Linked DNA regions of Homo sapiens. The protein of the gene in region 2 purifies or fractionates together with the protein of the main gene of each other region. This does not show direct contact. Each region holds a gene or a part of one and is shown on either strand. Other genes may lie near its edges. The genes, in order: ARHGEF37 and BIN3.

Region 1 (14,764 bases), on a different chromosome or scaffold from region 2:
AAGTTGAGGATCCATCAGCTAGCTGCCCAAGGCTTTAAAGGGGAGCCATTTTATTTATTTATTTTTAATTTTTTTTCTTTCCCTTTCTTACTCCCAGGAGGAGCCCATTTAAACATTTAAGGAAGGGGGGAAAAAGGAAAACAATCTGGTCTCAGACTCCAGGAATGGTTCATAGAAAGCTGTCAAAGGTGAAGCTCAGACATCATGAGAGCAAAGGACCCTGTTGAAGAATAAAGGGGCCGGGCATGGTGGCTCATGCCCATAATCCCAGCACTTTGGAAGGTCAGGCGGGCAGATCACATGAGGCCAGGAGTTCGAGACCAGCCTGGCCAACATGGCAAAACCCCATCTCTGCTAAAAAATATGAAAACTTAGCCAGGCGTGGTAGCACACGCCTGTAATCTCAGCTACTTGGGTGGCTGAGACACAAAAATTGCTTGAACCTTGGAGGCAGAGGTTGCTGTGAGCTGAGATCATGCCACTGCACTCCAGCCTGGCATGGAGTGCAGGCACTCTATTAAATATTTTACTTGGATTATCTTAAGAAATCTTATAACAACCCTGTAAGAAAGAAAATCTGACAGAGCAAGATTCTGTCTCAAAGCAAACAAACAAACAAACAAACAAACAAACAAAAAGGCCGGGCACCGTGGCTCACGCCTGTAATCCCAGCACTTTGGGAGGCCAAGGCGGGCAGATCACGGGGTCAGGAGTTCAGGACCAGCCTGACCAACATGGTGAAACCCTGTCTCTACTAACAATACAAAAAAATTAACCAGGAGTGGTGGCACACGCCTGTAATCCCAGCTACTCAGGAGGCTGAGGCAGGAGAATCGCTTGAACCCAGGAGGCGGAGGTTGCACTGAGCTGAGATCATGCCACTGCACTCCAGCCTGGGCGACAGAGTGAGACTTTGTCTCCAAAAAAAAAAAAAAAAAAAGACTAAAGGGAGGGAAGACCTACAGAAACAAGAATGTGCACATAGGGACCCTGGCTACCAAGCCTGGTTTATAAAGATAGACACCATAGTCAGAAGGGAGGATCCTGTACAAAGAGCTTCCAGAACTCTAAAACCCCCAAAAGAGCTGGAATCAACAAAATTATAAGGATAACTTCCAAAGTCCCATCCCTACTATCACTACCAAGCATATTTTAAGACTGATGTTCAGAAAAAGTAAGAGAGAGGCACACTATTTGGTGGCAGTGCTTTCCTCTTCTTAGTCCTAAAGATTGATTGTGAGAGGTGTGGTGAAGGTTAGGAGCCCAGGCCCTGGAGCCAGAAAAATGTCATTTCAAATGCTGATTCTGCAATCCATTAGCTGGCTTTCCTAGGATATTTATATAACCTTTCTTACAGGGTTGTTATAAGATTTCCTAAGATAATCCAAGTAAAATATTTAATAGAGTGCCTGGTACATGGTAAACTCTCAATTATAGTAGCTGTGGTTTTTTGCTTCTATTATTGTTAAGATGGAAAGGGTAGCATTACCATTGATCAGATGTATGAAGTTGTCTAAAGACACATGGCCGATCTAGATGCATAATATTTAAGCAGGTGCCATAAACAGCTAATCATAGTAATAAGAAGAACTATATATCAGAGCCTTACTGAGAATAAGACTAATACCATAGAAACAGAGCTGAGAGACTGAGAGAGAGACTGAAATGATGGCATGACTCATTTCAGCCATGATAGAGACTGATTGCCTTTTTCATATGAGTGAATACATTTTTATTCCTCATCCCCCTTTTCCCTAAGCCACTCTGAGCTGGATTTCTGCCACTTGATTACAACAAATAGTTCATTAGCCCTTAGAAAGGGAAACAGAGATCATCTGGAGTCAGCATAGGCTAATTTAATAAAAACTGGTCATGCCAGAGTTTCCTCATTCTCTTACTGACAGTCAACTAGATCAGTAGATCAAAGGAATGCTGTAGTCCAGTGTATCTGGACCAGGAAGGTGTTGTCAGTCTCTTGTGACATACTTACATGTATGGAATAAGAGGCAGTGGTGGAGGCTGGTGTAGAGGGCAGAGACAGGACAGTAATAAGGACTAAAAAGTGATAAAACTACTAAATTCAAAGAGTGTTGATCAGTGTCCACCTCTGGGCTCTGTTTTGTTTTATTAAAGATATCTACTAATTTGTGCTTTCCAACTCTGAGACCATCTGGGTCTAAACCTCCACCACCTTTCTCCTGGACTGGTACAACAGCTTCCTGACTGGATACACAGCATCAGAGTGGAGTGGTCTTTCAAAAACATAAAATTGGGCTGGGCATGGTGGATCACACCTGTAATCCCGGCACTTCGGGAGGCCGAGGCAGGTGGATCACCTGAGGTCAGGAGTTCGAGACCAGCCTGGCCAACATGGTGAAAACCCATCTCTACTGAAAATTAAAAGAAAAATTAGCCAGGCATGGTGGTGCATGCCTGTAGTCCCAGCTCGGGAGGCTGAGGCAGGAGAATCACTTGAAACTGGGAGGCAGAAGTTGCAGTGAGCTGAGATTGTGCCACTGCACAACCTGAGCAACAGAGCAAGACTCCATCTCAAAAACAAAAACAAAAAACAGAAAAACATAAAATTTGTCACTTTACTTCTCTGCTTGAAACCCAGACAAGTCTATCACTGATTTCCATCACACTTCAAAAGAACCACTCCTTTCCCATGATAATTATTTTGTTTATTCTATTTGTTGTATGACTCAGAGTTTCATTCAAAATAATGGAAACTCCATGAGGGCAGGGATCATGTGTCTATTATTCATCAGTGCATTACCTAGTGTTTACTCTAGATCTAGCATTTAGTTGGTGCTCAATTAATTGAATTAATGAATGAAAGACATGGGCAAACACTGGCAGAATAAATATCAAATTGTCAATGACATTGTTGCAACTGGAGTTAGACTGATATGGTCATACACAACTCTTGGTTCTTCTTGGAAGCCACCAAAAAGTTTGAGTTCAGGTATGGAATAGCAACTCCCTTTGAATTTTATGTAAAATGAAAAATACAGGCCAGGCACAGTGGCTCACACTTGTAATCCGAGCACTTTGGAAGGCCAAGGCAGGCGGATCACTTGAGGTCAGGAGTTCGAGACCAGCCTGGCCAACATGATGAAATCCTGTCTCTACTAAAAATACAAAAAATTAGCTGGGCGTGGTGGCAGACACCTGTAATCCCAGCTACTTGGGAGGCTGAGGCAGGAGACTCGCTAGAACCCAGGAGGCGGAGGTTGCAGTGAGCCAAGATCACGCCACTGCACTCCAGCCTGGGCAACAGAGCAAGAATCCGTCTCTAAATAAATAAATAAATAATACAGTATGCACTATGTAGTGTTTTTTGCCTGGGGCTTTCTTTCAGAAAAATTATTTTGAGATCCATTCGTATGGAAGCATGTATCAATACATCGTTACTTTCCATTGCTTAGCAGAATTCTGTTATATGGATATACCACAATTTGTCTCTTCACACACTGAATAAACAACTGTTTGTTTCCCGTTTCACTATTACAATAAAGCTGGACCTAGGAGTGAAGTTTCCGGATAACATGATAAGTGTATATTTAACTTTATAAGTTAAGTGTGTATTTAACTAAGATCTTTTTGAAAGTAGTTGTACCATTTTACATTGCAACCAATGGTATATAAGAGATCCAGTTCCTCTACCTTCTGGTCAACATCTGGTAGAGCCAATCTTTTCATTTTAGCCATCCTAATAGTTATGAAGTGATATTTCACTGTGGTTTTAATGTGCATTTCCCTAATGAGTAATGATCTTGAGTATCTTTTCAAGTGGTTATTTGCCACCCATATATATTCTTTGGACAACATTTAGAAAAATTGTTTAAATAATGAAAGAGGCTCTTGCTCATTATATAACTAAATAAACAATATAGAAACATATAAAGAAGGCCGGGCATGGTGGCTCATGCCTGTAATCCTAGCACTTTGGGAGGCCAAGGCAGGCAGATCATCTGAGCTCAGGAGTTCAAGACCAGCCTGGCCAACATGGTGAAACCCTGTCTCTACTAAAAATACAAAAATTAGCCAGAAGTGGTGGCACATGCCTGTAATCCCAGCTACAATCCCAGCTACTCAGGAGGCTGAGGCAGGAGAATCACTTGAACCCAGGAGGTGGAGGTTATTGTAAGCAGAGATCATGCCATTGCACTCCAGCCTGGGCGACAGAGCGAGACTCCATCTCAAGAGAAAAAAAAAAGAAAAAGAAAAGAAACATATAAAGAACAGTTTATAGTCAAAATTAGAAAAAACATCCCAATATTTTAGAAACTACTGTGAAACAAAATAGAGCCACAGAGCCAAAAAGGGAAGGAATTTTCCAAGTCACTGTGCTTACAGAAAAGGACTTCTCTGTGTTGATAAATAAATGATTGGAAGTGAGGCGGAAAGACAGCAACAGACATCCCCTCTCCCATACGCAGACAGACATACACATTCTCTCTCTCTTTCCTGGAGGAAAAACTCCCCTTTATAAATACATGGAAAGGACAGGTGGTATGTGTCTTAACCCAAATCAAACAGCAGCTGTTTGTCCTTAGCCATATTTCCCCAGTTCTATTTGGAAGGCCTAAAAAGGTCTTCCAAAAGAGGAAGGAGACAACACAGTTTTTTTTTAAAGCAGTTATTTTTATAGATAAGTGAGTCTGCCCAGGCTCTGTCATCACAAGTTTGGATCCATAGATTTAAAGTTCTTGAGCCTTCCAGTATTAGGGAATTAAGAAAATAATAACAATTATTAGAATTATAAAATTCTCTGGGCACAGTGGCTCATGCCTGTAATCCCAGCACTTTGGGAGGCTGAGGTGGGAGGATCACTGGCATCCAGGAGTTCATGACCAGCGTGGGCAATATAGCAAGACCCCGTGTCTACAAAAAGTAAAAAATTAGCCAGGTGTGGTGGCATATGCCTGTAGTCCCAGCTACTCAGAAGGCTGAGGCAGGAGGATTGCTTGAACCTGGGCGGTTGAGGCTGCAGTGAGTTGTGACTGCATCACTGCACTCAGCCTGGGTGACAGAGGAGACCCTGTCTCTAAATAAACAAACAAATAAACAAATTCTTCAGCCTATTAATAAACAAGCAATAGGCTTTGGACAGTCAAGCTCTACAAATGCCATTTTGCTTCTGTTACAGCACATGAAAACACATTCCCTACCTCATTAGTTAAATAAAAAGCCATTTATTTGATCTAGGGCAGAATCAGCCAAGGCACTGTTTACCACAGTAATCTGCTGATCCAAGAGGGATGTGAGCCAACTGCCAGCAACTCCTATTCCCTGGCAGAAATTCAGCTGAGGCTCTATTGCTGAATAAGGGTGGGTGCTGCTCAGGTCCCAGTTTATGTCCTCTTTCCTCTCATTTAAAAACAAACTCTATAGGCCAGGCACAGTGGCTCACGCCTGTAATCCCAGCACTTTGGGAGGCCGAGGTAGGCAATTGCCTGAGCTCAGGAGTTTGCAATCAGCCTGGGCAACACGGTGAAACCCCATCTCTACTAAAATACAAAAAATTAACCGGGCATAGTGGCGTGTGCCTGTAGTCCCAGCTACTTGGGAGGCTGAGGCAGGAGAATTGCTTGAACCCGGGAGGCGGAGGTTGCAGTGAACCAAGATTGTGCCATTGCACTCCAGCCTGGGAGACAGCGAGACTTCGTCTAAAACAAACAAACAAAGAAAAAACAACAACAAAAAAACGGGGTGTTGACCCCATTTGAAAGAGGCAAGTGAAGCCCAGTAAACACTCCTTGTTACAGTATCTGGTAGTTTCTACTTTCAGCTTTTGACTTGGAGTCAAATATTGAGGGTAGTACCTTGCTGCACCCTTATTTAGGATACCATCACGAAGGTATGTGGTGTGGTCTGTAAGTCATAATAGGGCTGACTTTATTTTTTCATGTTTATAATTTTTTAAATTGTATTTTATTTCAGATACAGCCCAATTTCTTCCAGGTCATCACCCTTTCCTAATTCCCACAGCTTTGATGATTTTGTGTGTCATCACTTTTTTTTTTAATTAATTAAATTAAATTTTAAACTGTGTACATAATAGATGTACATAGTTTCAGGGTACCTGTGATACTTTAATATATTTATAAAGATCAAATCAGTGTACTTGGGATATCCATCACTTTAAATATTTGTCTTTATGCTAGAACCATTCAAATTATTCTCTTCTAGCTATTTTGAAATATACAATAGATTATTGTAAACTATAGTCACCCTATAATCGTCAGCACTTTTATTGAGCATATATTATGTCAAGCACTAGCCTTTATGTTCATTCTTAAGTCTGACAATAACCTGGAGGATGAAGCAGACACTCTCATCCCCCGTCTACACATAAAACTAGGCCTTGAAAAGGTTAAACTATGCTTCCTGGATCACACAGCTGGCTGTCTGGACGCACAGCAGGTACTCCTCCACCAGCTGCCTCCCTTCAAAGGAGCAAAGAAAGTGCTCTGAAACCACCCTGCCTGAGTAGCAGCCTGCAGGCATTCCTTACAGCAGGAATTCATGTCAAATCTCAAACTGTGCACAAGGCTTTGTGTGAACCCTTCTGCTGGGAGTGGACACAGATCTCTAAGGGGTCAGGGACCCCCAGAAGGTTAAGAACCAGTGCCTGGGCAGGCTGTCTGCTTCCCCACTGTAAGTTTCTGGCGTTCAGAAGCCGGACGTTCTGACTTCTAGTCCCAGCTTTGGCACGACTTTTCTGAGGGACCTTAGCCAAGTCACCTCACCTATGGATCACGGATTTCTGTTCTCTTTTTTCCTGGCCTTGACTGTCTATTCATAATTATATTTTGCTTGGCAAGGATTCTTTACCATTGTTTGTATTTTTCCGTTGTTATAATGTATGCATTCTTTCTAAAAGCTGTCTGAAATCCTGCACGGAAGAAGGCAGAGAGAAACAGGAACAAAGAATAATAATGTTTTTCCAGGCCGGCTAACCTCCCTGGGCCTCAGTTTCCCACCTGTAAAACGACTAGGGTAGGCCATATGGACCAGGTGGCTTACATTCTCATAAGGCTCAAGACACAAAGCTAGCTACCAAGCAAGTTGGGACCCGGGAGGTCGTCGCATCCTGCCTTTCTGTCCCACCTCCCTTTTCTGATCCTCCCAGCAGCTGTTTCCTGCACCCCTCTCCAGCCCCATCCTGCTTGACCAGGCCCCAAACGCCCAGCGGACTCACCCGCGCGCGCAAGGTGCCTGCCGGCGCTCACGCACGGAGGTCGGCCGCCCGGGCAACAGCGCAGCCGGGGCAGGAGGGGCGCGTCGCCCAGCTCCCGGCACCCGCGCCGCTCCGGGTGGCTGTGCCCACCGAGGGCGCTGGCGGGCGCGGCTATGCCCACGCAGCTGCCTGCGTGCGTGCGCCGCGAGGGGGTGGCTGGTCTCCAGCCTTTGTTAATTGTCTTTCTGGAGCCAGGTTGTTTTCTGTTCGCTGCTCCCGGAGTCAGCCCCGGCCGGCTCGGAACCGTGCCCTGGCTGGCAGCCAACCCGAAGGATTGCAGGCGGAGTTTAGCGACGTGCCGGCACCCACCCTCCCGCGGCCTCTCATTAAGCCACCTTCTCCGCGGGCTCGTCATCCAGAAAACAGGAGCCGGCATTTAGGCCACCCGGTGGGAATGCTGACCCCGGTATTACTGGATACCTTTGCTCCTGCCCGAATCACCAAACTGTAGGGCTGGGCCTCAATTTAATTCTTAGTGTTGGCTGCCGAGGAGCCCTTGGTTCTTGCCCCAGCTCTCCTGGGAGCCCTGCACAACCTTAGCCAAGTCGGCCAGTCGCTTCCATGACATGACGGTGTTGGTCCATTCTTTCACTCTACTGGGAGCAAGACACTGTTCTGGGCACAGAGAACACAACAGTTAACACGATAGACAAGGTCCTGGCCTTATTGGGCTCCTGTGCAAGACACTAAACCCACCATTGAAAGTGATAGTTGCTATGAAACGCATGTAAAGTTTCATATCGGGGCAACCAAACCTTGTTTGTAGCGTCAGGAATGGACTAGATTAGCTTTTCTCATTCTGCCACTTCTTTTATTCTTATTTTCATTTTTAGGGCTTAATTTAGGGCTTATTATTTATTATTACTGCTGGTAGTAGTCATATTGCTTACTAAGGGCCAGGCGCTATACTAAATGTTTTACTTGTACTGTCTCAATTATCTCATTCACAATTTCTCTAAGAGATAGGTATCATTATTATTATCCTCATTTTCAAGAGAGAGAAACTTAAGCTACAGAGGTGAAAATAACTTGCCCATGACACACAACTACTAAGTGACAGTGCCAGTATTCGAATTCAGACTATCTGAGGGTTCAGGCTGCTTAACCACCACTCTACACTCAGAAAAACATGAAAACCAGAAAAGTGTCTCCTCTTGAATGTGACAGATGAGGGCAACTGAAGGGGAGAGGGGTGGTATAGCTTGCAGAAGAGAAAAACCAAGGGTGCCGGGCGCGGTGGCTCACGGCTGTAATCCCAGGACTTTGGGAAGCTGAGGGGGGGGCAGATCACGAGGTCAAGAGATCGAGACCATCCTGGCCAACATAGTGAAATCCCATCTCTACCAAAAATAGAAAAATTAGCTGGGCGTGGTGGTGCACACCTGTAATCCCAGCTGCTTGGGAGGCTGAGGCAGGAGAATCACTTGAATCCTGGAGGCGGAGGTTGCAGTGAGCTGAGATCACGCCACTGAACTCCAGCCTGGTGACAGAGCGAGACTCCGTCTCGAAAAAGAAAAGAAAGAAAAAAGAAAAGCAAGGGAAGCTGAGGACTTTTCAAAAAAGTAGCCCTATGGATTAGACCTAACCTGTATGATCTTAGAGGCCACCAGGATGCAGAAAGCTGTAAGGAGATGCATTGCAATTTAAAATGTAAGGAAGAACTTTTCTAACAATTTGAGTATTTCAAAAATAACATCAGTTGGCGGGGCACGGTGGTTCACGCCTGTAATCCCTTTGGCACTTTGGGAGGCCAAGGAGGGTAGATCACTTGAGGTCAGGAGTTCGAGGCCAGCCTGGCCAACATGTTGAAACCCCGTCTCTACTAAAAATACAAAAATTAGCTGGGCATGGTGGTGGGCACCTGTAATCCCAGCTACTCAGGAGACTGAGACAGAAGAATTGCTTGAGCACTGGAGGCAGAGGTTGCAGTGAGCCAAGATTACACCACTGCACTCCAGCCTGGGCGACAGAGTGAGACTCTGTCCCAAAAATAATAATAATAATAATAATAACATCAGTTGCCTGGAGAGCATATCCTGTCACTAAAAGTAAACATTCAAGCAGAGAAGCTTATTAGGGATGCTTCAAAGAAAAGTCTGGTACAAGTTAAAAACTGATTGAGGTGATCTCTAAGGTTCTCTTCAATTTTGATATTTTGTCTATTCTAACCTACTGATAAAGAAACTAAGTGAGTCTTAGAGTGGCTAAGTGGCTTGTCCAAAGTCAGCCGGGAAGTGAAGAGCTGACCCCAAAGCTGAGACTGATTCCTAGATCAGACTTCCTGATTGTTTCCAGGTGAGGGTCTTGTGAGTGCTCAACGCCTCAGTTCACACTCCTGTAAAGTGTGTATGTGCCTGACCAGTTTTTCCTGAATGTGTGAAATCATCTGCTTTACATGTTTTACTTTGCGCTTTTTTTCAGAAGTACGTGATGGAATACTTTGCACTTGTAATGTGTGCCCATCTTCCTTGCTTGAGTATTCTGTGGTTTTAGACGTAAGTGTCAACACTCCCCGGGGCAGCTGCTGTATTATAGGATCCCAAGTATTTACTTGGCAATTTAAGGAGACCAAAATAAGCTGGATAATATTTTTCATTTGAAACTGATGTTTCTCTGATTCTATTTTAGGACTCAGTTATTTTGAGTGGCATTTCTAATGCACTGCCACTAATTCCACCATCTTTCACCCTAGTCACACAGATTTTGAAGAGCGGCAATCTACTTGTTGACTTTAGAAGGGGCATTATTTTCTCAGTCTTCTGGAGAGATGTTTGCTTTTGACTGGAAACCTCTAACAAAGGAATCCATTTGATTTCTAGAACATTTACAAAGAAATGGACATCACCTTGCCCTCGGTGACACTAATCCAAAGAAAAAAGGGTTCGCTTTCACTTCTACCTTTGACAGAGTGATCCATTTTTAAATTTTATGTATTTTGAAAAGAAAATACATGTGCCAGTTCAAAATTCAAAAGTATACTGTCAGGGTTAGCTTATTGATCTTTAGATTCCTCTTATTGCCTGCCATAATGCCTTGTGCATAGTAGGTGCTGAATAAGTGTTTGTTGAATGGGTGGATAAGTGAGTGTGAAGACATTGTAGGAGGCAAAGAGGTGGATTAGGGTGGGGCAGCAGACATTTGAGAGTCAAGAGACAACAGCCCCTTTCCTTGGTATTTCTTCTTTTGCCTGAGGTGTATGGGCCTTAAAGGGAGCCCTGACAGAACTCCTAGACCAGTTGCAAATTTGACCATGACTTTATTAAGGGATTTTTACTAAAGTAAGCAGCACTGGAGTCTTTTGGGTTGCACATTACCTAAAGACTAGTTACTAGCCAGAGTCCATGGTTGCAAGCGACAAAAGCTGATTCTGGTTAACCAAAGCAGAAAAGGAATTTCTTGGAAGAGTATTTGGGAGCTCAAAGAATCAGTAGAAAGGCTAGAGAACTGGATTAGTAATATAGACAGGCGCTGTGGGAGGCCAGGTGGCCAGATCCACAGAGGAGACCATGCCAGAGGAAAGATGTTTCTGCTGGACACTGGCAATGCCACTGGCCCTGCCATTCAGGCTCTGGTCCTGGGGACTGGATGCCATAGATCACCTAGCTGCCATTACTGTTACCGGCTACTGAATGTCACCACCACTGAAATTCACTAAAATTTACTGAATAAACTTTACACATTGCCTGCTTCTCTTCATTCTTCTTTCCAGAATCATAATCAGAGAAAACTGATACCAAGGCCTTTTGGCTTCCATGAATGAGATCCAGGGCCCTGCTTTACACAATGTCCTGTTTCCCAAATGTATAATGGTAACATGAAGGCTGGGCAGCCAGGAAAATGACAAATGTCCACATGGAAGTCATCTTCTAATAATTGGTAGGCCCCAAACTAAAAGAATTGAAGAACATAATCTGCATAATGTACTTAATACAGCAACTGAGCTGAATGCTCCAAACCTGGAGAAGTGGGTGTTATGTTTGTTTCTCAACCTTTTATAAGTTTAGCTAATCAGAGAACTTCTTTATAGCACTAATACTTTCTTCCCATACCATTTTTTTTAATCATTAGAATCACTTGCTGTTCCAGAGGTAAGCAAAAGAAGGTTGAGAAGAAAGAGGTAAGTTGTGCCAAATGTGTACTTAGCACCACAATACGCGCAATGCTATGAGTCAAGTAAATACATTTTTCTGATAAATTTTTTAAAAGCTGTCTACCTCTTTTAGAGTCTCAGTCTTGGGATCATATCTAATTTTTTATTCTACTTTGTGAAATCTACCACTCTTTCCATAGTAATAATGAAAACAGGTGCTACTTATTGAGTGCCTAATACATGTCAGTAATGTTTCATAGATTGTTTCTAATCCTGACAATCATCCTATGATAGATATTATTTGCATCTTACAGATGATGAAATTGAGGCTCAGAAAGATTAAGTAAGTTGTCCAAGATTATATAGCTCATAGGTGACTGGGATTTGAAGCCAAGTCTACTACTATACCACAGTGTTTCTCGTGTGGTTGCTTTCTGCAAAGATCTCTATAACCGTGTAAAAAGTGTATTCTACTAAGTCTAGAACGTAAGTTTTGAGAATTATTTCTTCTGTCTCCTGAGATATCAATTTTTTTTTTCAGACAGAGTCTCTCACTCTGTTGCCCAGTCTGGAGTGCAGTGGCACGATCTCGGCTCACTGCAACCTCTGCCTCCCAGGTTCAAGAGATTCTCCTGCCTTGGCCTCCCTAGTAGCTGGGATTATAGTTGTACACCACCAGGCCTGGCTAATTTTTGTATTTTTAGTAGAGATGGGTTTTCACCATGTTGGCCAGGCTGGTCTTAAACTCCTGACCTCAGGTGATCCACCTGCCTTGCCTCCCAAAGTGCTGGGATTACAGGTGTGAGCCACCATGCACGGCCCTGAGATATCAATCTGTAAGAAAGACAAGTCAAGAAATTATTGGTTGGCCGGGCGTGGTGGCTCACACATTTATCACATAACAGACAAATTTATGTTATGGTGGCTAAACGTTTATCACATAACAGACAAATTTAGTAGCCTCATTACTAATGTATAATAATTTTTATAACAAGACTGTCTGCTTTATTGAGCCTATAAGCCAGGCATTCTGCTAGATGATACTAAAAGATAAGTGTTACCATCTTCTTTCTACAAATGAGAAAACTGACATTTTGAGAGATTCAGAAGCTCACACAGGCCTCACTACCAGGAAATGACAGAACTGGGACTGAAACCTCAGAAGTATGACTTCAAAGCCTGCATTTCTTCCAGCATCTCATACCCTCTCTGGGCCTATTTTACAATTTCTTTGTTTATTTGTTTGCTTTTGAGACGGAGTCTCGCTTTGTCACTCAGGGTGGAGTGCAATGGCATGATGTTGGCTCACTGCAACTTCCGCTTCCCAGGCTCAGGAGATTCTCATGCCTAGGCATCCAGAGCAGCTGGGATTACAGGCATGTGCCACCAGGCCCAGCTAATTTTGTATTTTCAGTAGAGATGGGGTTTCACCACTTTGGCCAGGCTGGTCTGGAACTCCTGACTTCAGGTGATCTGCCCACCTCGGCCTCCCAAAGTGCTGGGATTACAGGCATGAGCCACTGTGCCTGGCCCTGTTTTACATTTTGTATTGAAAACCACCACTTAGCCAGGTGCCAACACGCCCAGCTAATTTTTTGTATTTTTTGAGGGGGGGGACGGCAGGGGGTTCACCTTGTTGCCCAGGCTAGTCTCAAACTCCCTGAGCTCAAGCAATCTGCCCAGCTACTTAGGATGCTGAGGCAGGAGAACTGCTTGAACCCGGGAGGCAGAGGTTGCAGTGAGCTGAGATTGCGTCACTGCACTCCAGCCTGGGCGACAGAGTGAGACCCTGTCTCCAAAAAAAAAAAAAAAAAAAAAAAAAAATAGTCATTTGGTTGCAGTGACAGAAATCCAACTTATCCAAAAACTACAATGTCCAACAGAAGAAAGGGCCATCTCTACTTTGTGTCTTTTCAAGAGAGGAAGCCCCTTGAAGAAGCTCTCTAGCAGACCCTTCCTCATGTCTCATTGCTTAGAATAGTATCCCACGTGCATAGCTAAACCAATCACTGGCCTAGAGGGATGAAGACCCATCACTGGGTCAGTCCCCTGAGCATAGAGCCATGTAGCCTTAACAAAACTGGGATCTTATTGGGTAAGAGGAAAGAAAAAGAGGAATGCTCTTAGGTAGGCAGCCAACGGTGTCTGCTACAACAGGGAGTTGGCAATTCTATAGGGAAATTAGGGAGCCAAAGATAAGGTGACCTTTCCTACCGAGTCTGTAAAGAAACATTTCTTACCAGGAAAATGAAAAGTTATACCAGACAGAAAGTACAGACAAGGCATAACAATATGAAACTAGCTTGTGTTTTCAGAAACTGCAGGAACTTCATTATAAGTGGATTGAATGATCTGCATGGATTGTTCAGTGACAGACAAGACTGGAGACATAAGCAGGCACCAGATCATGAGGGCATGGGTGCCATACTCAAGAATTTAAATGTAATCTGTAGGTAATGGGGGAGCCATTGAAGAATGAGAACAGCATAATATTATTTAATTCTAGAAAGATCATCTGTCTAGAGAGTGGAAAATGGATCCCAGAAGACATAAGGCTGAGGTGAGAAATCATTTAGGAAGTTGTAGTATTCGGCCAAGGGAGAGACAAAGACTCAGATTAAGGTGCAGTGATAGTGAGGTAGAAGAGGAGAAAGTAAGAGTAAAACTTTGATGGAGTATCTGTAGAATTTGGTGACCTATGGGATGTAAGGAGATGACTACCTGGGCTGACTCTGGGATTTCTGTCTTGGATAGTCAGGTGGACGATGGATGAGACAAATTTTGGGCTAGCTGATACCTGTGCTATGCAAGTGAAGGTGTCAACAGGAAGATGGATGTAAGGTTCTGAGAGAGGGAAGTTTGGACTGGCAATATAGACTAGGAGGTCACTGGCATATCCGTTGTACATGAAGCCATAAGATGAATGAGATCACTCTAGGAAAGCAGTAAATGCACGAAAAGAAGAGGGCTAAGGCCAAAAAACTGGTGAACACAACCAAGGGGCAGGCAAAGAAAGGGGAGCCGGCAAAGAATAGATGGAGCAGTCAGATAGACCTGTGAGGAGACCCAGCCTTTTAGTAAACTTCCTGATAGACAATATCCTCCAGCTTCTGTGTTTCAGTCTGGTCCCATACCACCAGATAAAATTATAGTTGAAATTCTGGATCAGTACCCTTCCAAGTATTGTCTGAATGATTGTAATATTTGATTTTTATTTATTGGTTTCTAGATGAAAGTTTCCTCTGTTAGTGCACCTCTGCTAGAAACTGCATGAGAAAAATGTCTAGTGAAAGGGAAACTCCCTCTCCTGAAACATGCATTCAGTTCCTTGGAATACAGTCTCAAGGTCTTGTCACTACAGATTTAATAATCTGCCATTGTGTGGGCAAGGATAGAAATAATTTATAAGGGTGCAAGTTGATACA
Region 2 (15,895 bases):
AGGTTCAAACGATTCTCCTGCCTCAGCCTCTTGAGTAGCGGGGATTACAGGTATGCACCACCACCATGCCCGGCTAATTTTTGTATTTTTTAGTAGAGACGGGGTTTCACCATGTTGGTGAGGCTGGTCTTGAACTCCTGACCTCAACTGATCTGCCCGCCTCTGCCTCCCAAAGCGCTGGGATTACAGGCGTGAGCCAACACGCCCGGCCCATAACATATCATCATGTAAAGACATCACAATTTATTTCCCCATTCTCCAGAGGCTGGGCATCTGCACATGACGATGCCCCTCACACTCCTGGCATGTGTCCCCTGCTGCATGGAGGTATGGGAGTTTCTCTAGGGTAGGGGACAGCCACTGTTCCAACTCCAAAATCTCCAATATACACCCCCTCCTGCAGTGTATGTGAATTCCTACTATTCCTCACCCTCAGATACTTGGCATTGTCAGGCTTTAAAATTTCTGCCAGTCTGATGGCTGTGAAACAGCATCTCATTGTTGGTTTAATCTGTTTTTCCTGATTACTAATAGGACCAAACATCTTTACATGAGCTTTTGTTCACTTGGGTTTTCTTTTCTGGAAAGCAATTGACAGTTTTCAAATCTATGGAATAAGTTCTTATAAAGAACTCAGCCAGTGTTCTTTACAGCTGCCCCTTCTGTTATTTTTTATTAACCCAGTGAAACAACCAAATACACAAGTAACCCTATCTTCAGTTGCTGGAGTCAAAGGTGTTAGCTTATCGTCTGAGTATTTGTAATGATACTCTTAGACAGATGGTTTTCAAACTTGAGGTCTTTGCAGAACATCTATCACTCAAAGGTCATTTAAACTGCTACACAGTCTTCCATTATATACATAGATCAAAATCAGTCATGAAATTAAAAAATCATATGCACTCACCTCAGGAAGAAAAAAAGAAAAAAAAAGTCAACTGAGGTGGGTCATTCTTTAAAAAAACAAACAAGGCTGGCCGCGGTGGCTCATGCTTGTAATCCCAGCACTTTGGGAGGCCAAGACGGGTGGATTACTTGAATCCAGAGGTTAGAAACCAGCCTGGCTAACATAGCGAAACTCAGTCTCTACTAAAAAATGGTGGTGCATGCCTGTAATCCCAGCTATCTGGGAGGCTGAGGCACGAGAATCGCTTCAACCCGGGAAGTAGAGGTTGCAGTGAGCTGAGATGGCACCACTGCACTCCAGCCTGGGCAACAGGGCAAGAGCCTGTCTCAAAAAACGAAAAACCATGAACAAGAACATAATAGAAAATATCAGAGTGCATTGCACACATACTGTGTCAAACTTTTATTTCAAGTATAAGTGTGTGTGTGTGTGTGTGTGTGAGTTGTGATATCAAAGGTATTTCTAACTGTGAGTTGTGTTCAAAAAATTGTGGAAACTAGTCCAGGTGTGGTGGCTAACACTTATAGTCCCAGCCACTCAGGAGGCTAAGGCAGAAGGATTGCCTGGGCCCAGGAGTTTGAGACTGTGGTGAGCTGTAATTGCACTACTGCACTCCAGCCTGGGCAACAGTGAGACCCCCCGATTTGTTTAAAAAAAAAAAAAAAAAAAAAAGGAAACTATTGTCCAAGTTAGCATCCTTGGCTCCATTTTTTCTCTTCTGAGTTATCCTGCAGGCCACTGCCAAAATAATCTGACTAAATCATTGCTTTGGCCATGCCACTTCCCTGCTCAAAAGCCTTCAATTTCCAAAAGCCTAGGCTCAATTTCAAGTCCTCAGCATGGCACTGAAAGCACTATATAACGTGGCCCTGAGGTGGAGTGCCAATTCTCCCCAATGCAGCCTCTACCCAAACCACTACTTACCACCTCCAAGCTGGCCTCCTGACAGTCCGCACAAACACTCTTGACGCATTCTGACTCCACACACCTTTTTCATGCCATGCTTCTTACCTGGATCCTTCTCTCCCTCCCACTGAAACAGCACGTATTTGCTAAGTCAAGGTTCAGTTAAAATTACATCTGCTTCAAGTCTTTCTTGATGATGCCATACTGACATTTAGTGATCGGCTGTCCTTTTGAATCCCTAGCACTTTCCATACACCGGCTGAAGATAGAGATCGACTCATGCAAGTCTTTTAAATGTTCCTCAACATTTAGCACAGACTTTTGCACATTATAAATGTTGAACAAGCATTAAATCAACAAATATTTGTTGAGCACCATGTATGTGCATCACACTATACTGGGCCCTATTTGATGGATTAGCCACCAAAATCATGAGTTTGGGAAAACAATTCTAATAGGTTTAACAGCTGACTCTAAAGCTTACTCCGACAGATTTCCTTAAAGAGTATAATACATATAACACCTCTGACTAAGTAGCTGTGGGACTCAAGACACTTGACTCTTTCTGACTGCTCCAAGATCTGGAAGAAATCCTTCTCCTCTCATTAAACGCCTGAAATAAGAGCAAGCTCACATACAGAATCTCACAGACATTTTATAGGGCCCCTGTCTTCAAGGCATTACTATGCTCTCCACAGAGGAAGAAAAGCTTGGTGTGTCCAAAGTCACAGAGGACATGAGTGATGAGGCTGCCTTAGGCAGGGGCCCCATAGGTGGAAGAAGCTGAGCCAGTTACAGAACACCTAGAGGTCTGCAGGACACAAGGACTTCCTCTATCACTTATGTGTGAAGACTGTCAACTCCCTGTGATTCACTACCAACCTGCTAGTGTCAACACACCTTAGCAAAGTGAAACTCCGTGATCCAATCAGCTTGGGAATGGTCTGCTACTCTTCTAATATTCCTGATCATGGGGACAGAATACTCAGGAGACACATTTTAGTTCTAGTTCTTCCAGGTACTAGCTGAGTGAATTCTAGTAAGTTACCAAGGGGGATCATAAGACTGCACTGCTTGCGCAGACATAAGCATGAAGTCAGACAAAGGACGGGAAAGCCATCTGAAAAGTTAGAAGCACTCTACACATGTGAGACAGCAACGGTAATCATAGGGGAAAGGACTTCACTGAGAAAAAAACTGAATAATGGTTTTGTTTGACCCAGAAGTTTACCTTCTTTATATTCCATTCATTTAACAATTACCTGTTAGATACCCACTATGTGCATGATACCCACTATGCGTACAAAAAGATGAAGAAGCTCTATGTCGCTCCTGTTCTCATGGGGTTGGTGTGGAAGGGAGGTGTACGTCTGTGATACTCAGAAGGATGCAGAAGTGCTACAGGAGAAGCACTATGGAAGTACAGAAGAAACCCAGCAAAGCACTTTGGAGTGGAGGATCAGAAGGAGTGGGGAGGAGAAATCACAGGCAGCCTGACCTGGAAGCCACTTGTGTCGGTCAATTTAACAATAGTACTTTCAGAGGCTCTTCATTTTAGGAAGTGGTTTGTAGGTTCTGCAAGTTTTTATCTTAACATTTTTCCTGAGCTGAGGCAAGTCAGGAAAAGGGAAAAAAGGCCCCATTCATATATTTAATAAACACTTCCTGACTGCCAGGAACAGTGCTAGGGAATAGCAATGACCACAAGACAGTCCCCATACTCAAGAACTCACAGACAAGTAAACCAGCCAGCGGAGTACAGATGCTGATGAAGGTCAGAAGAGCGGCACCCAGTGCAGCATGGCAGGGTGTGAGGGGCCACTCAGGGAAGACCCTCAGAGAAGGTGAAGCGTGGCCTGACTCTTGAAGGATGAGTAGATGCTGGCCTAGTGGACAGGGTGTGAGTGAAGGGGAAACATTTCAGGCAGAAGGGACAGTTATCCAGAGGCACATGGGCACGAGAGAGCAGGAGAAGCTTGGAGGATGGAACACACGGAGTGAAGATGGACAGCCAGGCCCAGAGGGCCTCAGAAGCCCTGGCCCAGAGTTGGGCCTCTATCCTGAAGATGATGGCAAGGGACTACAGGGTGAAAACAGGAAAGAAACAAAAAGGATCAAACATGAGGAACACCAAAGTGTGAAGGGCAGACAGAGGTAGAAGACCCCGGAAGAGTCAGAAAAATATCACTCCACTCATTTCACAGCAGGCTCAGGTGGCAAATTGTCAGCAGGAATGGCCACTCCATGCTACAGATGGAGAAACTAAGACAGAGAACAGCTCAATGCTTGACCAGGCCGCACTGTGAGTGGCTGAGCCAGAACCTGAACGCAGCACTCTAACTCCTACTCACACTTACCTGCTCTGCCTCTAATTTCCTTCCTTTTTGTCAAACTACTGGACCCCTAGGTATAGGGAGATTTCTTCCAGTACTCCCTTTTCCTCCTCGTTTAAGCCTAAAATCATCAAGGTGTATGGTTCAACAGGAGGCTACAATTCCTGGAGCCAGCTTAGATTGAGGTCACTATTCTTAATTCTACTTAATCCTCTCTCCATACCATAATAAAGCCACCTGAGTATACACTGGAAGATGGGGAAGAGAGACAGGAAGGGGAAAAGGGAGACAAGAGGGAGACAGAAATAGGGAGGGAGGGGGTGAGTGGGGAGGAGAGGAGAGAAAGTTGGGAGGGGGGCAAATGGCGGGGGGAGGTGGGGTGGACAATGGGAGAGAAAAAGAGAGCGAGAGAGAGAGAAGCATTTGGCTTGAGGCCAAGAAGTGAATCTGTGATCTGAGATGTGAATATCAAATGCCTTCTTCCTAGTAGGACAGACCACCGGGTCACTTTTCTGAAAGGCAGATGGGTGTATGGGGAGTGGATGGGTAGATGGTGCAGGAAGGCAGCAGGTACCCACTAAACAAACAGGGGGTGGGCGGGTTGCCTGCACAGAGGAAGCAGAGAACAAAGGCCTCTCACTCTTCATGCAAAGTCCACAGTGTGCAAAGGGCATCAATATTGGACATTTCTCACTGTGACATTTTGAAAGCTCAGCCTAGCCCAGAACAATGGTTACCCTCTGGGGACCATGGGCCATGTGCCTTATTTAATGATGGCTTGGCACAGCCCATGTACTTGGTGAACTTGACCTTGGGCATCAGCCTCCCATGATGGCTCTACGTCACTCTGGTCTCTTCCCCTAATGAGAATTCCAGTCTCACATGAATGGATGGATTCATTCTGGGGGCAGGAAAACCACTCAGGGAGTGAATCAGAAGGACCCAGCCCCGGTCTCCTTGCCAGCCATTGAGCTAGGAACTGAGTGTGATTGTGTGCCCAGGCGCCGGTGCTGTTCCCGTCTTTGAGAGACAGGGTCAGGGTCCACGCAAGAGATGACGTAGAAGCCCTTTAAGGGGGAAGAGAAAGGAATCTCAGCTTTGAGGGACAAAGCCACCCTTCTGGCTGTGACTCTCAGTCCAAGGAGATACCAAGATGTGCATGTACTGGTAAATTAAAGCTACTAGATGAAAATCTCAGCTCTTGTTAGACAGTTGTCAATCTCAATTCTCTCCAACCTGACAGGATAACCTTTAAGGAATGGGCTACTATTTTTTCAGAAGGGAAACTTTCTGTGAGACAGGTGGAAACAACCTGCTTCGGATCACCCAGAGAATCATTTACCTTTATTAGTTTCTGCTGTGCTCTTCTCCCAACTTGTGAAGGAAAGATTGGTTCAGTAAAGGCCAATCTAGGCAATATAAAGCATCTGTACTGCCTCATTTTCACTTTGAAAAATTAGGTAAGAACACTCCAAAGATTCAAGACGCAGCAGCCAAAAGGATATCTATATTGCAAGACTGGGGGGCCCAGAATGACACTGAAAGGACGTAATTCCTCTGGGAAAGGGAACTGAAGAATTGCCGCTTTGCCCACCACTAACTAGGTTATAACAAGACAGGGAAGGTAGCTTTTTAAGGCTCCAGCCCCTTATTGGCCTCCTGGAGCAAATGGTGGAGGGAAAAGCAGAAGCTCCTGCCGGGGCTTATTAGGACATTGCTTCAGGCTTTCCTCCCGTGCTTGCGGTGATTGTCTGACATTTGTCCATCAATCTTGGTCTAAGAAACAGGTGGGGGAGGGGACAGATGGTTCGCATTTTACTTTAGAGAAGTATCCCTGACACTGACTGATATCAGCTGCTTGCGTTCTCCACTGATGGCCAAAATTAAGCTTCAAAAGCCTTCCTGAAGGACATTCTGTTATCTTAATTCATTCATAACTGGTTATCATGCGCTTTGCATAAACAAACACACTAGCCTCTGAGGACAGAGTGGCAAATATGTTCCCTATGTCCATGGGCTGATTAATCTTGTACATCTCTGGGGCTCAATTTATTCACACACTATAGTTGAATCCCCTGAGGTCCAGGGTTGTGGCTATATAGGTCCTTGGGCCTGACGGTAAGGTAAGGTGCTGCATATGAGTATTCTCTAACCTCTAAGAAAGCCCCAGGAAGGCAGGCAAGTCACAATTCTCTCCTGTGAACATAAATAATCGAGAGCAACAAATGGGGATTGCCTTTTGGGCAAACTGAGTCTTACAAAATAAATACACCATTATGAAGTGTCTACTATGACCCAAGTATCACATCATACTGCAGCAACTGGAATTGTGACTCTATTACTCTAAGACTCCCTGGCTTCTTTTCTCATGGCATGATAGTTCCCATAAGTTTAAACTTAACCATGCCTATTTAGAGGGCAGGCAGTGAGTAATAGCTCTGGAATGATTAAAACCAGTCCAATCCCACAGTGGAAGGGTGTGTGCGGAGTGTAATTCTGGCCCCTTTAAAAAGAGAAGCAAGTTTTCCTTGTCTTTTGAAGCCTGCTAAGTCGTGCAAAGAGGATAGTTACCCAGAAGGGAGTGGGTTTTGATTAGTGAACTGGGTCCAGGCTGCCACAGCGAGGGCCACAGCTCTGGAGGGACTGGCGCGGGGCAGAGATGCCCACAGGAGAGAAAGACGACACTGACTCCACCTCAATGGGTGTTTAAAAAAGGAGGGAACAAGGAAGTCCCTCACTTCAAGGAGCTAGGAGGACGCGAGTCCGGCAAAACGGGTCAGACGCGGAGTCCCAGGCTAAGAGGATCATCCGCCACTCTCCCCGGGAGTCCTGCTGAGAGACTGCGACTCCGGAAAGCACCGAGGGAACGACCCTAGGGCAGGGGCTGTCGGGCCTTGCTCTGGGGCGGAGGGGTCGCGCGGGACCGGAGGGAGCCGGGACGCGGCACTGACACAGGGCCAGGGGCCTCGCGGGTCCGCGGGTCCAGCAGCTCCCGCCGCCTGGGCCTCACTCACCAGCTCATGGTCCCGAACCTGCGTCTGCCGCCGGGGTCCTCAGCCACAACTCGTTTCTCTAGGGTCACTTCCGGATTCAACCAGTCTCCAGGAAGTGACGTAAGCCCGCCTCTCTGCCCGGAAGAGGCGGTTGGGAGGCGGAGCCCGGCGCGTTAACCCTTCTGCTGCTGCGTGCTCGCCGCGGAGTTTCCCTTGCCGGCGACTCTCTGGCTCTGGCCAAGCGCTTAGACACACAGGCTGCAACGGGGGATGAGGGGAACCTCTGGGGGCGTTTTCTGCCTTCAACACTGACTCCTAAAGATCTCTTCACCTGACCATGCAGGGCCCTTAGCCGGGCTGTCCCCTCTGTCAAGTGGTTTCTAATCCAGAGACAGTGGCAGCAATTGTCTGTGGGAGAAGAAGCCATTTGGGATGGAGAAAGTGGAAAACTTACATTCTCTGAATGCTCTTTCCTATCTTTTACAGTTTGTACACCACACATGCATTACCTGTTACAAACAAACGGACGTTTCCCTTCCAAGATGGCACAGGGCTCTGAATATCAATAGATAGGTGCTTTTCAGGTTGGAATGTTTCCTAGAGTTATTCAACACAATAAGACGCAGAGTATGAGTTGTTCCCTGCCTTTCAGCCCTTCCCTTTGGTCTCCTCTACAGGACTCAAATGATGTAAATTGCCCCATTCGTTCTATTCCTTCATTTAACTAATACTAGTTGCACTAATATTAGTGTCAGGTACCGAGCCAACCTTAGGATACAGCTATCTCAGAGAAGTATCTGCCCTGCTCTTGTTCCTTCCCAGAGCTACTTTCCTGGAGGGAGAGACAAGCAGGCAATTATAATCATGCTATAGGATAGGATAGAATGAGGTGTGGTGGCAGCCTAGAAGGGGACCCTGAAGTAGCACATGGGGTTTTGGGGAAGGCTTCCAGGAGGAGCCAGTGTGTAAGCCAAGCCCTGAAGGCAGAATCGGGGCTAGCCAGGTGAATCTGAGATGAGGGGTGACGAGGCTCCAGGCAGAGGGAACTTACCATGGCTAAGACACAGACAGGACCAAGCAAGCAGCTGACTTGCCTCGGGTCTCCCAAAGTCAGAATTCAGGGCCTTAGTGGCTCACAAGTTGCCTGGGATTCTGGGCCGACTTGGTTTCCTCACCGCTAAGTACCTCCCTGCCTTGGAAGAGAGACAAGAAGGCAGTGAGGCCCGTGCAGGTGCTGCTGGGCCCCCAGTGACCTTCTCTCTAGGAATTCTCCTTCCTCAGATGGACCGGGATTGTTTCAGGGACTGCTTAGGGGGTTGCTAATCAATGACCTAGCGGGAAAAATATGACCAATGACCTAGAGCAGAAGTAGTGTATGATTTGTTTTGACCTCCTAGGGTGGAGTAGAGGGCTTGAGCAGGAGAGGTAGGAGGGTGGGCCACAGGATGCAGTCTCTCATTTGTGTTTTCTGTTTCCATTCTTGAGAGTCCATAGTTTGACTCAATTGACGTTTCCAATGGAGGTTGGATCCCCAAGCACATCATGCAGATCAGCTTCATTACCATGTTGTTCCTCAGGAAACAGGCCAAAATGAGCACAAGAGCAGCCTTGAAGAGTAAAGAGGAAGAGCAGAAGTCACCAAAGGGTAGCCTGGGCAGAGAGTGTGGGTAAAGGGAAAGAGAGAGTCCTTGCTGCTTTGCAGAGAGTGTGACGGATGGAAGGGCTGTTGTGGGTTTAGGAGCCTCCTGGCAGTTAGCACCTGTGAATAGTTTTCCCACCTGCTTCCTCCCTTCCCCATGTTCTGCCTCCCTCAGTTATGCCCCACAGGGATAAATATTTCCAAACGTTTTAGCCTAGGTAACTGCTATATCCTAGTAGAAGTCTGTTTCAGGGCTGGAGGGCAGCAGACACATCCTAGAGGACTAGAATGGATAAGTTCTGGACTACAAGTCTGGAGGAGTCTGCGGCTCTATTTCCAGTTCAACCTTTGACACTATAACTGACCTCAGATAAGTCACATCCCCTTTGTGGCCTTAGTCCCCTCATCTATAAGATGGAGTGGGTAGATCACATCCCAAAGTATCCAACATTGCAAGGTTCCAAGTCAGCTGTCTTGTTGACTCTAGAGGCCCTAGGGAAATAGGAGAATGGGAAAGGCAGGTGAACAGAGGGGCAAGCCCAGAGAAGTGGGCAGGTCTGAGGAACTGGTGATATCTTGGATAAAGCTAAATATGAATTTTTCTGGGGCTGTGCTGTTGACAGGTCACCTCGAAATCTTTAATGCAGCCAGCAGGATCTTTGAGGTTACTAAAAAGAATGGTGTCCTCCCAGGAGTCTGTCTGGAATGTGCCTGCTTGGTCTCCTTACCTGTGGCTCATTCGCTCAGCTAGAGGGGCACTGGGCTGAGGAGGGACAGTCAGGCATCCTGCTATCCTGTGTTCCTCCATGAGCCTGCTGTGCCATGAGGCATTGATCCCTGGGGAGCTGAACATGGAGACACACAAACACTTCCCACTGTTGTGAAAAACTCAGCCTGCAGGGTCGGGAGCTATGTCTTTCTTATTTATAACCAAAGGGACAGCATGATACAGATTGATCCTGCCCCTGCAGGGAAGGAATGGAAAAGAGAAAATTGGGTTTCTAAGTAGAAGCTGAGAGTGGAGGCGCTTTGGGTAGAGGTGGATACTCCTGGTTTCAAGCCTTGTAAATACTGATTCTTCCCCAGAAGTCTGAGCCTGAAGGTAAAAGACTGTTCAGGTGGCAGAGGTCTACTTCTGGGACAAAGCTGTTTACGAGGGGAAAAGCAGCAGCAGAACCTGCTCCACCATCAGCCCCCAACTTTTCCTTGGAGGTTTTTGCTCAGAAGTTGGTAAGCAGGTGCTTCCCACTGACTCTCATCTCTGGGATTGTCATGTCCTGTCTCTCCCAGCCTTTCCCACACAGAAGTCTAGGGCTGGCCCCCGAGTCTTTCACCATGCCAACCTCTTATTAGTGAAGAGTGAGCATTCCCAGAACCTGGACCTGGGCTGTCAGGGACTTCATTATAGCACTGGGCTAAGGCTGAAAAACTGAATGTGATAGGGCCAAATTGGTGGGCTCAGCTCTCTTGGAGCCCTAAAGGTCTTGATTCCTCAGGGAGGCTCCTGCAGATATTCAGACACAGGCCTCAGGTTTCTCTGTGGCCTCACTGCCCCACTTCTCCCTACTCTGTACCTGCTCAGTAGGACGTCTCAGAAAAATAGCTTTCCCAGGGCCTTTGGGGGGCAAGGACATAGGAGGAGGAGCAAGGGTGGGAGAAGAAGGAGGAAATCAGGGTGAGATTTCCAGTGGTGGGAGGCCCACACGGACTGCTCAAAGGTCAGGGTGAAGTGACACATCAGAAGCCAGGACAGCAAGAAGCGAGCAGAACCAGGAACGCCTGTCTGACCCGTGGCTCTGCCTCCAAGTGGCTTGAGGGAGTCTTGTCCCTCCTCTGGGCCTCATTTTCCTTGACTGCAATGGGAAAGGTCCAGGTTAGATCTGGGAGGGCGAATGGATATCATCCCATGTGCCAACTCTGATTGTCTGCTTGGAATGCAGTGTTGAGGATTCTGGGGAATCTGCCATCAGTGGGGAAGTTCTATGATTGATTAGTCATGTCTGCCTTGGACAAGAAAGAGCGATGAGATGGTTTATATTCCACTTTATTGTTATTATTTTTATTATAAGTTAACAATAATTGAGCACTCATGACATGACAGGCACTATTCTCTGCAGTTCACATTTAATCCTTGCCTCAACCCTGTGAGGTGGATACTACCATTATTATCATTTCACAGATGATGGCGCTGAAGTATAGCCATGAAGCAATAGTATAGCTTCATGAAGCAGTGAAGTGGGGTTTCTGACCTGAGCACCCTGGCTTTGATCCTTATGCTTTTGCCACTACAGTTTGCCATTTGACCTCCAACAACCTTTGGTTCTGTCAAGGCACAGTGAGGTCAGAAGCCAGCAGACAGATGGAACCAGGAGAAGCACCGCTACTAAATGGCCAGGTTGTGGGTGGAGGGAGGGCCACCCTATGACCAGGGTGCCAAGCTCAGCCTCATCCTGGGAGCTTTTATATGCTTCCTCCAGTACGGAGAGTGCCAGGCCAGCAGGTGGCAGCACCGGGCAGGGTGACAGGAAAGGGCAGCTCCTCACATGGCATGGACGTCCTTCAGGGATCAGAAGGCCCAGATGCTGGGGAAAGCAAGAACAAATGCGGGTGTGGAGGAAGGATAGCCAAGGACCCAGAGGAGGAGGAGTCCTGGCCTCTGACCTGCAGGAGCTGCCACAGCCAATGCTTTGGTTCCACCCAGCAGTGCAGGCCTCTCAGCTTGCATCTCGTGGTGCCTGCTGTGGGCTTTTTTTTTTTTTTCCTCCACTCTGGGAGAATGACTAACTTTAAGGACTAAAAAAAAAGTGTTTTGATTACACTGCCTTTTTACCAACTGGGAGCATTAGTCACCGTGGATTGCTGCAGATAACGGGGAAGGCAAGCAGCACCCCCTCCTCCCCCTCCTTCTCTCTGATTAGCTCACAGAAACCAGGAGGAGACATGAGTGAGGGAGAGTGCACCAGTAGGGAAAACAATCCCCCCGGGTTGATATGTTCCCTGGGCATCAGGCCAAGGGCTGTCCAGGCTGGGCTGCCCCCTGACAGGTAGGCTCTAAGATGGCCCCAGACCCACAATAGGAGGTACCCACTGGAGAGAACTGGCAGTAGGACCACTGAGTCCAAGGCTCCTGAGATTCTGAGTTGGGTCTGGATGGTCTGTTCCTCCAGGTAGCTCCAGGGCACACCCAGAAGGGGAAGTCAGAGGAAGTCACTGAAGACACAGCTCCTGAGCTGGGGCTCAGGATGTCTGTGATGTGGAGCTCATGCCAGGCTGTGGTATGGCTAAGGCCGCTGCCTTGAGCTGGGGCCCTCATGGCTCTACCTGGGGTTGAGACATTCCTGGCAGGTGAGGTTGGTGCTCATGCCCCACTCCCCACCCTTTGGCCTTCTCCCTTCTTCTCCATCTCCATGGGGCAGTATCTAGTACTTTTGGCTGATGTTCCTACCCAGTGCGGCCCTCTTTGCTCCCACCTTGGTGCTGGTGGGGCTGGAGAGCTGAGGTTCCAGTCTAGCCTGTTGGTGCAAGGTGTCAGAAGTGGGAGCTCTGGGCCCTGCTGGGGAAGGCACTGAAGCAGGGAGAAAATGGTGCTGGGTTGCCTGGTTGCTTTGGGGGCAGGCTGACCTTGTCAGTCCTGGTCTTTTGGCCCACCCCTTCATCCCATTCACCACCCACCCCCAAATGCTTCACTCTGGAAAGCAGACATTTATTTATCTGAATGGCCTTTCAAGTGACAGGGCCATGAATATTTGTGTAAAGAACTTCAAGCATTAGGACAAATAACCTTTTTACTGTAACAGGAAAGGAAGAGACAGAAACATAATTCGATTTCTGCATCTCTCAAGATCAGAGTATTTCATCTGGATGTTGCTGCTGCTGACTTTCTCTTTGGAAAATAAAGTAGTCACAGGTATTTGGTGTGCTCTGGCCTCAAAAAGCTTTTATGGTACCACCTTACAGGAAATGAGGTCAAAAGAGTGGGAGTGGGTGCTCCTAGATGGAGAAGGTCTGTGAGATGCCCCACTCCCAGCCTCCAGAATCTTAGCTGCCATAGAGAGTGTCCAGTCCTGGGGTTGCCTCTGGTTTGTCCGCTCAGCCCCGCTTTGCGTTCCTGGGCAACCTAGAGCTGGCGTATGGATGCTCCCAACCCCCGTTCTCTGCCCTTTGCAGTTCCCGATAATAATACCCACCATTGTAGAGTCTCATTGGCACTGGGTGAAGCATTTTACATGTATTAGATCGTGTATTCTGCAGTAACTTGGTGAGGCAGCTCCTCTGATCATCTCCTTTTTACAGATGAGGAAACCGAGGCTGAACTAATTGCCCAAGTTCACAGAATTGGCTAAGTGAGAAGGACAGGCATTTAAACCCAGGCTGTCTAAACCCAGGCTGCCTTGGAGCAGAAAATAATGTAGCAAAAAGGGAGGAAGCTAGCGTTTATAGTAGACTCACTTTCACAGTCATTAGCCCTTGCTGCCTCCTTGAAGGAGGAGGATGAGGCCTGGTGGACTGAAGGTCAAATCCAAGTCCCTCTTGATTTGGTTGTTGCTCTGTCCAGAGGTCAGCAGCCAGGGGGTATCCCCTGACCTCGGAAGGTAGTATGGAAGAACAGGGTTTGGGCTGTGTGTGGGTGCATAGAATAGCCTCAGGACTTTTGTCCCCTGGCTGGGATAGCCATCCACCCCCATCTGAAGCCACAGAGTGTCCCAGGTGAGCATAGCTTCTAGGAACGCATGGCTTTCCTAGGGAATCCTTGCAAGTCCCACGCGTGAGCAGCAGGCCTGGGGAGAGGGCAGGACTGCCCCAGCCTGACCTTGCTGCAGGCCTGGCTGCCCAGCGTCCACCCCCTGCTGCTGTGGTGGAGACAGCCCCCAGACACCGGCAGGGCAGGTGGCAATTATCCCCGGGCACTGATTACACCACAAGGCCGGCAGTGCCCTAAATAGCCCAGGAGCTCAGCCTGGGGGAGGAGAAGGGTCCCGCTGGGAAGGAAGAGGCAGAACCAAGGGATGCATAGTGTGGATGTGTCAGGAAGGACAACGGGGGGCTGGGGGAGGATTTCATGCCAAGGCCAGCACCTTTGGGGCAAGCCAGGACCCTCAAAGAAAGGGATGAGGTTCCGCTGCAGCAGGCTGGCCTAGAGAAATTAGATGGGGCACATGCCAAATCTGGTCACAGTGAAAAGGTGGTAACCAGCATGAGGGGCATGTGGAGAAGGCCTCACTGATGGATAGGAGGAGACAGTGGTGCCACTGAGGCCAGGCCGGCTGCAACCCTCCAGCCCTGGCCTGCTGTACCTCTGGACTGATCAGGAAGGAATCCCCAAAGAAGGCACACAGCAGGACGGAAGAGAGGCCAAACAAGGGCAGGAAGGCTCCCGGGGGCACCAATTCCCTCTGCCAGGAAGGTCAGACCAAGCAACTTTGGTCCGTGGTCCCCTTTTCCAGCCTCAGCCATCCTTTGCTTTTCATGGAACTGCAACTGGCCAGGCCCCAGGGATGGCAGCACCAGCAGAGGGGCCCTCCCCTGGGGTCTTCTTCAACCAGAAACAAGTCAGGCAGCGGTGGGCTTCAGAGGTTGAAGGCCTGTGGCGGGGGGCCTCATGAAAGAACTATCCTCAGGGCAGGGAGGCCTGGGTTGCTGCCCCCTTCATTTCTTTCTTTCTTTCTTTTGTTTTTCTTTTTATCCTTTTGAGACAGAGTCTTGCTCTTTGCCCAGGCTAGAGTGCAGTGGCGTGATCGTAGCTTACTGCAGCTTCGACCTCCTGGCCTCAAGCGATCCTCCCCGCTCGGACTCCCAAAGTGCTGGGATTACAGGGAAGCTCAGTTTCTCAAGCAAGTGCTGGGATTACAGGGAAGCTCAGTTTCTCAAGCAAGCTGTGCCCTGTAGGCCCTTGGGTGGCATAAGAGGCAGGCTTCTTTGGGAGTCTCTCTGACTGCCCCCAACCCTGAAGCTGGATCCTTTTGAGGTTGCTTCTCAGCGAGCAGCATGAAGGCCCGGAACAGCCGCGTGGGAGGAGGCATTGGATACAAACAAGGGAGAAGAGAGGCACCCCCTCTCACCATGCACCCCATTTTTCTTCTTGTATAAGCACCAGTTCTTCTGTATTGGCCCCCTTCCCACGTGGAGAGCCTATATCTATTGCATCTTCCCCACCTGTCAGCCAAGGGAGGGGGCTGAGCTGCTGCCCCCCCATTCCAGAAAAGCTACAGAAAGAAAGCCAGGCCTGAGGTTGTTCCCGATATTTACCAATGTGGGCACAAGGCAGGCTCAAACCTGGTTTCCCAGGGGTCTCTAATTGAAGAGGTCATGGTGACCCCATGGTGCCCAGTGCCTGCACTCCTTCTTGCCATCCCAGAGGACCCAGCGCCCATCTGGCAGCGCCCGCTCCAAAGCCACCTATGAGTTCCCTGGACCCAGGTCAGGAAAGGAGGCTGTCAGTGGCTCCAAACCACCTCTTGCAGCAACTCTGCTAATCCAAATAAGATAGGGAAAAGGCAGTGGGAGGAAATGATAGTTTCATGGTTATTTTCAGAAAGGAAACAAAAAAAAAAATGCAAACAGGAGCACACCCTGCATTTTGGTACAAAATCTAGGAGTCTCAAGGAAAAGAACCCACAGTTCTTCCTTCTTCTTGTCCTCTCACCAGATGCTGGGGAGGGGCTGCCCGGGCTGTGGGGGCCTTGGGCTGCTTTTGCCTGTAGGGAAAGGGAGATGAGGGGCTGCAGGAAGCCAGCAAAGACTCTTCCTGCAAAGGCAGGCCTGGAGAAGCTGAGACATCTTAGTCTTGTGGGCAGACAGGGCCCACCCTTTGCGGGTGGAGGAGTTGGAGAGATGGAGTGGAGGGAGCAAGTGGGGAACTGGGAGATTCTTGAGCTGATGCTTGTAAAGCGCAGTGGCATGTGTAGGATTGGTGGGCTGGGAGGGTGTGTTCTGGGAGCACAGCTCAGAGAGAGAAATAGAGAAGGGGGAGGGAGAGCAAGAGAGCGTGTGCTCGTGGGAGAATTGAGTAGGGCTGCTGCCTGCATGTGTGTGCAGGGCGTGCACAAAGATGGGAGCCGCAGAGCCCGGGCTGTACACAAAGGATCGTCCAGGGCCCTGCCAGCTCCAGAATGTTGTG

The links.
Region 1: the proteins of BIN3 (region 2) and ARHGEF37 purify together in Homo sapiens (affinity purification with mass spectrometry; 3 studies listed by BioGRID and IntAct, with this or other methods). This does not show direct contact.

The regions. Positions count from the first base shown.
Region 1 is NC_000005.10:149,574,071-149,588,834, reverse strand, and holds the start of ARHGEF37 (rho guanine nucleotide exchange factor 37), read right to left. Parts: upstream 7,338-14,764; 5' UTR 7,211-7,337; intron 1-7,210. UniProt on the Homo sapiens protein: May act as a guanine nucleotide exchange factor (GEF).
Region 2 is NC_000008.11:22,661,884-22,677,778, forward strand, and holds the start of BIN3 (bridging integrator 3), read right to left. Parts: upstream 7,239-15,895; 5' UTR 7,169-7,238; coding exon 7,161-7,168; intron 1-7,160. UniProt on the Homo sapiens protein: Involved in cytokinesis and septation where it has a role in the localization of F-actin.